Homo sapiens: one gene and its partners. The protein of the gene in region 2 purifies or fractionates together with the protein of the main gene of each other region. This does not show direct contact. Each region holds a gene or a part of one and is shown on either strand. Other genes may lie near its edges.

What was found.
Region 1: the proteins of LAMTOR4 (region 2) and FNIP2 purify together in Homo sapiens (affinity purification with mass spectrometry; one large-scale study listed by BioGRID and IntAct). This does not show direct contact.
Region 3: the proteins of LAMTOR4 (region 2) and BORCS5 purify together in Homo sapiens (affinity purification with mass spectrometry; one large-scale study listed by BioGRID and IntAct). This does not show direct contact.

The regions. Positions count from the first base shown.
Region 1 is NC_000004.12:158,904,971-158,908,646, reverse strand, and holds the end of FNIP2 (folliculin-interacting protein 2), read right to left. Parts: 3' UTR 597-3,676; downstream 1-596.
Region 2 is NC_000007.14:100,151,890-100,154,826, reverse strand, and holds the end of LAMTOR4 (ragulator complex protein LAMTOR4), read right to left. Parts: intron 2,112-2,937; exon of another isoform or gene 2,070-2,111; intron 1,428-2,069; coding exon 1,310-1,427; intron 978-1,309; coding exon of another isoform or gene 961-977; coding exon 863-960; 3' UTR 624-862; downstream 1-623. UniProt on the Homo sapiens protein: As part of the Ragulator complex it is involved in amino acid sensing and activation of mTORC1, a signaling complex promoting cell growth in response to growth factors, energy levels, and amino acids.
Region 3 is NC_000012.12:12,355,892-12,360,008, reverse strand, and holds the start of BORCS5 (BLOC-1-related complex subunit 5), read right to left. Parts: upstream 2,932-4,117; 5' UTR 2,892-2,931; coding exon of another isoform or gene 2,891-2,891; 5' UTR 2,558-2,890; coding exon 2,500-2,557; exon of another isoform or gene 1,571-2,499; intron 1-1,570.

The DNA of each region.
Region 1 (3,676 bases), on a different chromosome or scaffold from region 2:
AAATGAAGACTGACAGAGATGTCCTGTATTGGTGACTCAAATTCCATGGGTACCATAGCTACCAAACTATGTTACCATTGGAAACGCAGTTTTCCAAAAGTATATCAATTCTTGGTAAAGACCAAGTGACCACTTCTTGCTAAAATTCTAAATCTTACAAAGTAAAAATCTTCCCTCAATTTATACAACAATTGCATTCCTGGAGAATGCATTATATACAAAAATCATGTAAAAATACATTGTGTTTTTTATGTATAGCAGAATTATCTGCTTAATTATAAACAGGCTTTTTTAGCCATATAAATGTCCAGCAGGACATTTAAGGGTTACGCAGGAGGTGGGTGGGACAAGTCCTCATCCCATGGGGCTGTCTCACATGGTGCAGGACCTCTCGCCTATCATCTGAGCCCCCAGCCTCTCTGTGCCAGTAACCCTAACCTGGCATTATGCTAACCAAAAATGTCCCTGCATTTCCAAAACACCCCGGTTAAAAACCACTGAGATAAATAATCAGCTTGTTTTCAGCACGAATTATTAGAAATGAGACCTCTACATTTTATTAAATATAACAAATCGCATGCAGCACCAGGAAAATGTTCAAGATAAATTCAAAAGTTTTATTGCACCAAATGCCACAGAAAAATGGATCAAAATAATACATAAACAAGTTAAAAAAAATTCCCACACAATGACATTGGTATCTATTCAGACTGATCAAAAACGAAGTCCTATCAATTTCTCTTATGGAGCTTCAAATGACAAATTCCAGAATTTTCTCGTTTTTGAAATACCACTTAAGTTTAAGCATATTGCAATCTCACTTTCAAGATATATCGTTCATCATATTTTGACATTTAAAAATTAACATTCAGAGGGGACTTCTTGATTTAGGCAAAAATTATATTAAAATACCCTCTCCCCCAAGCACAATAAAAAACAAATGGTTCACATTTACCAAGAGAAGCTGAAGACATTTTCAATTTAACGTGGAAGTATGCATGAACAAAATATTCTCTAAAGTACATATTAGCGGAAAAATCCAGACTTTAAAAGAATTTTGGGATACTTTATATTCTTTATTATTTTTATGTACAACCAACTCTAGTGAAGAACCTAAAAAGCTACAGACTAAATTTTTATAAAATCTCAGGACCTAATTATAAGAGCCCAAACAACGGTTTAGTATCATTTAGCAAGCGGGGATTTTTCTCCCTCCAAAAACGTTAATTTTGAAAAATATGGTTAAGTTTAAAAAGTTGCAATGTGTAAACGGCAGTTCCATGGGATGTGAAAAGATTATAGTTACTTTCATTAAAAAACAGCACACTTCGAAAAATGGATTGAAGCCTGTACAAAAAGCTATTTAACACTGATTGATAAAAAATAAAATACTTTGGAATTATGCACAAGTATGGAAGCTACATTTTAAATTTTCATTGTCATGTCTAAAACGTACACAATTACCTTTACATTCATTTCACTTACCAATTTATTAAAAATAAAACTGCAACATGCTAGAAAGAGGTCCATCACAGGGACATTTACAGACTTCTGCTCTGTCATGCCTCACTAGCTTGCTTGGAAAAGCAAGATGCTACAAAAGTTACACTCAACAGGTAAGACTTAAAAGTTGAAGAAACCCTAAAGGTGGAATCCTGTCAACTGAGGTAGATTTCTTTTCTTTTTTAAAAAAAATTGTTTTATGTTTTTTCTTGAGGTGGGCATGGGAGCAAGTGGGGTCCCTTTCTTGCCTCTGCGGCTAAGCCAGAATGAAGCCACTGGGTGGTGTACGGCGTGTGAGCGGTGGATCTCAACACAATTCTGTGAGGTTTTTTTTTTCTTTTTTGCTTTTAGGAAGAGGCTGAATTTAAGACAAAGAAAACTTGAATGTTAAATATTTAAAGGATTATAAAAGAGCAGCAACATTCTTGGTCTATTTTTGTAGGCAATAGATATGAGGATTAGGTTCTGACTGGAATCCTGAGTGTCACGGAGACAGCCCCCACATGTGACCCACCTGTAGTTTTCCAACAGGCATTTTTCCAAGAGTGAGTTTTGGAACATTAAATTAAGAGCAAATTAAATTTTCTCAGGCTTTGAGGGGCCTGGGCTGAATTTTTTTAATGTATAGAGTTTAGAATCAACGATTTAAAGCTCAGTGTCCCCTATATGGGTCTAATTATGAACATGCCACTATGTCCACATTAGAATTGAACTGATTTTGTAACAAGTTATTTTCTATGAAACCCTGGAAGGTGGTGAATGAGGGAAAGTGCCCAAAACATGTAAACAAGAAAAAAGGAACTAGAGACGAGGGGAATGCTTTAAACTGTAAAAGCTGTAACATCAGCTCTGACAGTTTATTTACACGTAATGAGAAACGGATGTGGGGTGAGCTGAGCCACAGGTGAGGTTCCTTCTCTCTCTGTAACACAACAGCAAACAATGATGTCATGGAACTACAGAACTTAAAACACCAAAGTCAAATGCTAGGCAAAAGGAAATAGGAAAACATTAAAAAGAATGAACATTTCAATTTTCAATGAATGACATAAAATGATAAAGATCTTACAAAACTTAATGCACTCATCTACATTTTGCATCATTAAAAAAGGGAAAGGTAGCAGTTCTGATTTTTATCAAATGAAAAAACTGAAGTCATTCTAGTCCCTAATAGGGAAATTACTTCATAATCTTAGGTTCAAAGATACATGAAAAGAACTGGAATTAATTCATAAAACAGTGGAAGGGAATCAGAGCCTGGTTAACTGCTTGAGATCTGCAAAGTGCTAAAGATGTTTTGCTTTGCTAGCTTAGCTCCTGTCCTTTAATGACCAATATTTAAAAGTCTTTTACTTTACCCTGGATGTCAGTACATAGTCTGTTTCACGGTCAGTAAACTGAAGTTTCTTTTATATTAACAGAAAATTAGGTTGTTTTTTTTTTTTTTTTGCATGAACTTTAGGAAATCATTTTGGTCGGTTTTATACAATGTGTAAGTTAATGTCTGGAAAGATGTTTTGAAAAGGATGCAGGAATTAGAAGGCACAGAAATGATAATATAAAAATTTAGATCATATATGAATTTTTTCTAAATGTTCAAGCTAATTGCTTTCATTAGTCATCCTGAACTGCTGCAGGTTTCATTTCCCACCAGGACAGCTGTGCCTTTTAAAGTAAAAATAGTCATTTGTATTAACTATAAGGAAAAAGTGGCTTCAGCTGGAAGAACTTACCAACCGAAACACTCTTGAGCTTATAGAAATAACTTTGGTAAGTGGCCTCTCTTAAAAAGGCTGCTGAAAGCTCTAAAATATAAGGATAAAACATACGGTTTCAGACTGTACACTTTGCTGCTACAAACTACATCTTGATGGGATTAAGAGGCTACATTGATTCTTGGGTTTATTGCACCAACAATCCATCTCTGACCTACCCATGGCTGCATCTGAAACAAGGTAAACTCCAAGAAGAAATGAAAACAGTGGGTCCCTAAAGCACTCTTCCCAACAAGCAATTCTTACATGTTTTATGTCAAACAGTCACTGCTAAAGCCACTGGAGCTGAAGATGGCACAATGTGGCTTTCTTTGCTTTACCTTGTCTAAAAAGCAAACTGTGACCTGGAATCCAAAGTCTGTATTCTGATTGTTGTCTCAGAATAGCAAAATATGTTT
Region 2 (2,937 bases):
GCTGGGACTAAGCCACCAGTATTCCCCGAGTTCCTGTGGGGGGGGCTGGCCCCACCCCTAGGCCAGGGCAAGGGTTCCCAGAGCTCCCTTGTCCCCGGCCCTTTACCCTGGTTCTGAGTTTACAAAGTCTCTTCCTCATTCCCGTTGAGTTCTTTCCCACCTCTGACATTCCCTCCCTCCCTCCCGCAGGGCTGAGATTAGAGGGTGGTGATGGCTAAGGGCCCCTGACAGTGACCTTCCTGTCTCAGGGGTTGGGGACAGGGCCAGGTAGCCTCCTGCCCCTTATGTTTACGTTTGCAGCCTGAAGCACTTTAATTTTTTTTTTTTTGGTCTGTTCCTGTAACTTATTTTCCAACTATTGCTTCCAACTGAAATAAGACTATTAAATGCCTGTTCAGGAGGGAGAAGGATGACTAGTTTGTGTACTGATGGGAAGAGCAGAGGTCGCCAGGGCTCAGGGTGACTCCCTTCCCCTCCAGCTTTTTCTGCTTCCCAGTTTTATAGCACACAGAGGTGGCCCTGCCGCACCCAACTTGGGCTAAGGTGCATGACTTTCTCCCCAGAAGGTGGAAGACAGACATGGGGTGTAACCATTCCAACACTAAACACACATGTCCCTGGGCTGGAGAACATCAGACTCATGTTTATTAGGGAGTGAGGGAGCACAAAGGGAGGTCTCCTTGCCCTTGTTCTCCTTAACACAGCTCAGAGTCCCCAAGCCTGGGCCCGTCCAGGTAGGGGTGGGAGGTGGGCGAGCAGAAGGCCCTAGTTCTAGCAGCAAGCCAAGACCGACAGGTGTGCCTGCCTCATCACAGAGGCCCAGGACCCAATCCGCTTCTCCGACCCTCGCCCTCCGGCAGGCTCAGACATCAATGGGCTCCCGACCTCGGTTCTGCCTCTTCACCACAAACACCCTCTGTCCTGACACCGTCACCAGCAGTGTGTGTTCTCCAAAGACCACTGGAGGAGAGACACACCTTCCCCCGCCCCAGGAGAGGGAAGGGAGCACAGAGTTAGTGGGTGCAACAGACTCCATGGGGCGGGGCCACACGCACATTGGCTGGGATCAAAGCCAAAGAAGTTCTATAGTTCCAGGCTCAGAGATTTGAAGATGAGTGGCCTCTGCTAGATCTCCTTTCTCTTGCCTTCTCATTCACAATTCTGATACCAGGGAGTCCCAAAGGGAGGAAAGTGGCCAGACCAGAGACCCCAGGAGATGGTAGGAGGCTGGAAGAAGAGAAGCCGAGAAGCCCCTGGAAGTAGCCCCCCGCTCCCAGTACCACCACCAAGGGCAGGGGCAGGGGCTCACCAGACAGGCGCTTGAAGGGCACATTCATGCCGCGGTGCAGCCGGAAACCGCAGGCTGTGCTGACCAGCTCAGAGATGGCACTGGCTGCCTGCTCATCATTCTCCAGGTCCCCAGATGACTGCATGCAGACGGAGGAGGGAGAGGGGCGGGCATTACGGCACAGGCTCAGGAAGGAATTCCAGGCACAGTCCCCTTGGTTCTCACACTTAGACCCTCTCCCCCTTGGCTTGCCAGTACCCTCAGCTTTGGAAAAAAACAACCTGAAATCTCCCCCTATAATGTTGTCACCCTCCGGATGCCATCCTGTTTCCCATAATACTGGCCTTCCCCGGATGAGCAGTAACTTATCCATCTTTTTTTTTTTTTTCTTTTTTGAGACGGAATCTCGTTCTGTCACCCAGGCTGTAGTGCAGTGGTGCAATCTCGGCCTCTCGGGTTCAAGTGATTCTCCTGCCTCAGCCTCCCAAATAGCTGAGATTACAGGCACGTACCAGCACCACCACATCTAGCTAATTTTTTATATTTTTAGTAGAGACGGGGTTTTACCATATTAATCAGCTGGTCTCAAACTCTTGACCTCAAATGATCTGCCCGCCTCAGCCTCCCAAAATGCTGGGATTACAGACGTGAGCCACCGTGCCTGGCCATCCATCTCTTTATTGACCATGCTTTTCTAACCCCATAAAACTGGATTTCTCCCATGTCCCTGCCTATTTGATAAAGCCACATTCTCCAAAATGAATGCCTGCCCACCACTTACCTGTTAATGGCTCCATCTTTTTCTGTCTTCACACTTGCTGCCCTGTTTGCAGAATCTCAAACATAAACATTCCCTTTGTCCTTGAATACCTCCCTCTGTTGACCCCTAGAGTAAGTGATGGGACAGTGGCTTGGGCTTCCTCTTTTCTGGTGACTGTCTCAACTTCCTCTTCCCTCTTCCTTGATATGGGCCTCCACTAGATTTAGTTCCTTTTGCTGAACTAGCAATATATATTAACTGCTATTTTATATCAAACTCAATGTCTAAAGTTGGGCCATCAAATTTCACCTTATCCTTATCCACCTCCTTCCCAATCCACTTCTTTTTTTGATTTCCTGTTTGTTTGTTTGTTTTTTGAGACAGAGTCTCACTCTATCACCCAGGCTGGAGTACAGTGGTGCAATCTTGGCTCACTGCAACCTCTGCCTCCTGGGTTCAAGCAATTCTCCTGCCTCAACCTCCCAAGAAGCTGGGATTACATGCATGTGCTTCCATGCCAGGCTAATTTTTTGTAGAGATGAGGTTTCACCATGTTGGCTAGGGTGCTCTCGAACTCCCAACCTCAAGTGATCCACCCACCTCAGCCTCCCAAAGTGCTGGGATTAAAGGCGTGAGCCACCACGCAGGGACATGTTTCTTAAGGCATCATCACTCTTCCAGGCTTTAGAGTTCTGGCTACAGAAATATTTCCTCTATTACCTATTTCTAGTCATTAGCAAGATATACTGATTCCTCCTTTAAAATAACTTCTTCCAGCCAAGCACAGGAGCTCATGCCTGTAATCTCAGCACTCTGGGAGGCCAAGGCAGGAGGAATGCTGGAGGCCAGGAGTTTGAGACCAGCCTGGGCAACATAGCAAGGCCCCTGT
Region 3 (4,117 bases), on a different chromosome or scaffold from region 2:
AGGCAGATTGTTTTTACTTTCTCTTTAATTCTCCTGCTATCTTGAGATATATATATATATCTCCCTATTTCTAAAATGAGAAATAAAGGGTACAAAATTTAACTGTGACTTGCCCAAAGTCAGCAGTGCTAGACAGTTAGGAAAGGAATTAGACATCTACAAGTTATTGGTACACAAGGCCCATCTCTGCGACACTGGAGTTGCAAAGCTGTCTATCCACCCTACCACATCAAGCCAGCTATGTTTAGTAAGTCCAGGAAAAAAACCTGTTCTCAACCCCCGAATGACTGGCCTATTCCCGAGGCTTCAGCCTCCTCACTCTTTTTTTTTTTTTTTTAAGTCAAGGCGGCTGGGCACGGTGGCTCACGCCTGTAATCCCAGCACTTTGGGAGGCCAAGCCAGGTGGATCACTTGAGGTCAGGAGTTCGAGATCAGCCTGGCCAACATGGTGAAACCCTATCTCTACTAAAAATACAAAAATTATCCAGGCGTGGTGGCATGTCCCTGTAATCCCAGCTACTTGGGAGGCTGAGGCAGGAAAATTGCTTGAATCCGGGAGGCGGAGGTTGCAGTGAGCCAAGATCATGCCACAGCACTCCAGCCTAGGTGACAGTGAGACTGTCTCAAAAAAAAAAAAAAAAAAAGAGTCAAGTCTCACTACATCGCCCAGGCTGGATTTAAACTCCTGGGCTCCAGCAATCCTCCCACCTGGGCCTGAGTAGCTAGGACTACAGCCCCCTCACTCTTAAAATTATAGCATTAGTCCAGGGCAAAAATAGCCAGTAAGTCCATTCTAGGCTGAGGCAAAAATCAGAAATTTGGAGGACAAAGAGGGAGATCAATTCAGGTTCCTTGGGAGAAAGTAATCCATTTGGAGGGAAGTGATTCAAATTATAAAGGACTCCCTAGACCAAGAAATCATCCTCTCCCCCAAATATCTTCCAGACTGGGACAAGAATGAATCTTTAAAGTGTTTTATGCTCTAGAAGGTAATATTCCCAGGCTCATTATAGTCATATCTCAAAGGTTAATCCAGGGATGCCATAGAACTGTTCTGCCTCCTAGAAGCTCGTCTCCGGAGGCTTGGCATTCACTCTTCTAGAAAAATCTCTGCTGCTTTTATTTCTTTTCAAGAAATATTTATTTACCTGTTTTGGTAATTTACCTAACATTTTACAAAAGCCATGCCAGAAATCTTTCCTGCTATAAATTGTGATTCCTCCTTCCCCAGATACCAGAGGAAAGGGGACTTCAAAACACTCTAGCTAACCTCTACTACTTTATCTGTAAAATGGGATTACTGCAAAAATTATATGTAAATGTATGTAAAGTACCGGGCACAGGGGAATAGGCAAATTCTAACATCGGAAATGCTCGAATGCTGTTGGTTCATGGGCAAGAAAACAAATTAAAAAGATGCCACACCGCTTCCCCCTAAAATATGTTTCTGCCCTGCCATAGAGGCAAGAATGTCAAAGGTGGCAATTATTATATTTCTTATAACAGATATGACACTCTGGCCCTTCCAAGGAAATAGAAAAACGTAGCAAAGCTAGTAGATGCTGCTCACCATTCAAAGCTGCCCCAATCCAGTCCCCAGAATGTAGGTCTGAACTAGTCTTGAAAGTCACACCTTAAAGTGAAACACCCTTAGATCTATTAGCTTGCCTATTTCTGAATTACAGCTCCTATCAAGAACAGAGAACTTCTAAAATCGGCGACTCTTTTTAGGCCCCAGATTTAACCAATTTGCGTTAGCAACCCCGGAGCTTAACCAAAGCACTCCCAGCTGTCCTAGCGTGTGGGTAACAAAAAAAGCAGCAAATGGTCCTCAATTAAACATCAGCTGCTTTATCTATTTATTGAACACTCACTGTATTGCAAACACAATAATCCTCCCATTCTTGTCTCAAACGCTTAGAGAAGTCTAAAAATCATGGACAGAGAACAACAATGGAAAACACCAGTGCCTGCTGTCTGGCCAACCTCTACAAGATTAGAAAACGGACCAAGACACCTTCTGAGAAGAAAAAGCTGTTTCTGGAGACCTTTGCACTAAAGGGTTCAAAGCAAGTGGACACCTATCACATATCCCTTCAGAAAAGGAACCTCTAACACCCGTTTTTAAGAAACAGACTGTTCTTAGAGGTCCTATAATCCATCCACTGTGTGAGCCAAATCTCACTACATCAGCCATGAGCACTAGAGCCAAAAATTAATTAGCTCGTCTTTTAAACAGGAGGCTGTAGCTGGGAGAAACGGCTGTTTTGAAAATAAATAAGGGCACTGGCGCCCACGCTGGCTTAGCTTGCAGTCACACGCACTTCCATCAGGGGAATCGAGGCCAGGACAGATGGTGACTTTTTTTTTTTCCTACTAGCACGGTGAAGGCTTTTTCTGTGCGTTCCCGTCCGCAGTCCCTGACCCTAGTCTGGGAGGCAGCCCGCTCTGCAAGGGGACAGGGCGGGCTGGAGGAGGGTGGGAGGTTAGGACACCGACCTGAGGAGTTCAGATCGTTGGGTCGGCTCTCGGCCTCGGAGCTCTGCTCACTGCCCATGGTGCCGACAGCGGTGGCAGCAGAAGAACGGCGGGCCGGGCGGTCACCGCTCCGGCGGCGGGCGACAGGGCAGGGGCCAGGGACCGGGACGGGGAGGCAAAGCAGAGTCTGGGCGCCGCAGCGAGGCTAATGTGTGGGGCTGACGCGTCCAGCCCACGCAGGGGCCTGGGCGGCGGGAGAAGGAGAGGCCCTATTTGGGGAACAGAAACGCAAGGAGGCGCGGCGCGAACGCACGCGGCTAGCCCTCCTTCTTTCCGGGAGCCCTAAGAGAACCGGCAGATGACACTGGCTTTGCCGCACCTGCGGCCGGCGGGCGGCGCCGCTTTCACTCACTGGTTCACGCTCCGCAAGCTCGCTCCTTCCGGGACGCAGATGGGCGGTGCCGGCTACGCAAGACCTTCAGTTCCGGATTAGGAGGCCCCGCCCCCCGGCCCGAGGGAGGGGCGGAGAGACCCGCTCCTGCGACTTAGGGCGATGCCACCTTAAAGGGCTTGACCTCCTCGAAGCCAGAACTGCGGAAGAGGGTAAGCCCTTTCCTGTTGTAAGGATGCGTCACCTTTAAAACACCACCCACACTATTAAGCTCTTCAATACCCACATGTGAGAACAACTTTACAAAATAGGTATTTTTAACCCTGTTTTACAGATGGAGAAAGAAACGCTAGATAGACCCAGGATTCGAACCCACAACAGCTTGGATGCAAAGCTCATTTTGAATTCTGAAGAGCTGGGAGTTTAGCAGTGGACGACCAAACAAAAAAATACCAGAAGACGGTGAAAGCAGCAGCTGGAAATGAGAGAAAAATTAAGAAATAGAAAATGCTGTTTCATGTATTAGGGAGTGCACATCTTTAAAGAGAAGTGAAGAACCTTTTTGGCTAGGCGCTTTCTGGGGACCTTGGCAGTTATCAACAAGTCACTCTGAAACTAACAGAAGGTGAGGAGGGAGTAATCCAGAAAGGAAACTGCCATTTTTGCTAGGGCAAGAAAGTAGACCTAGCAATGCAATGCCATCAAGGAGTTAGCTGGCTCTAGCGTTCTCCGAACTTTGCAACTCATTTTATATTACATTGTCTGCGTCAAGAAATTTCAAGTAAATGCCTTGAGATTTTATATGTATAAAATGTAGTCTCTGGCCAGGCGGGGTGGCTCACGCCTGTAATCCCAGCACTTTGGGAGGCTGAGGCGAGTAGATCACGATGTCAGGAGATCAAGACCATCCTGGCTAACATGGTGAAACCCCGTCTCTACTAAAAAATACAAAAAATTAGCCGGGCATGATGGTGGGCGCCTGTAGTCCCAGCTACTCGGGAGGCTGAGACAGGAGAATGGTGTGAACCCGGGAGGCAGAGCTTGCAGTGAGCCGAGATCGCGCCACTGCACTCCAGCCTGGGCGACAGAGCGAGACTCCGTCTCAAAAAAAAAAAAAAAAAAAAAAGTCTCAGAAGAAGTGTCAAGTTGACTAAATGATTTTTAAGTCCCTTCCACTCTACTATATCACAATAATTTCCCCTATTTTACCTTATTTAATTTTCACAACAACCCTGCAGCCTGTAAGTA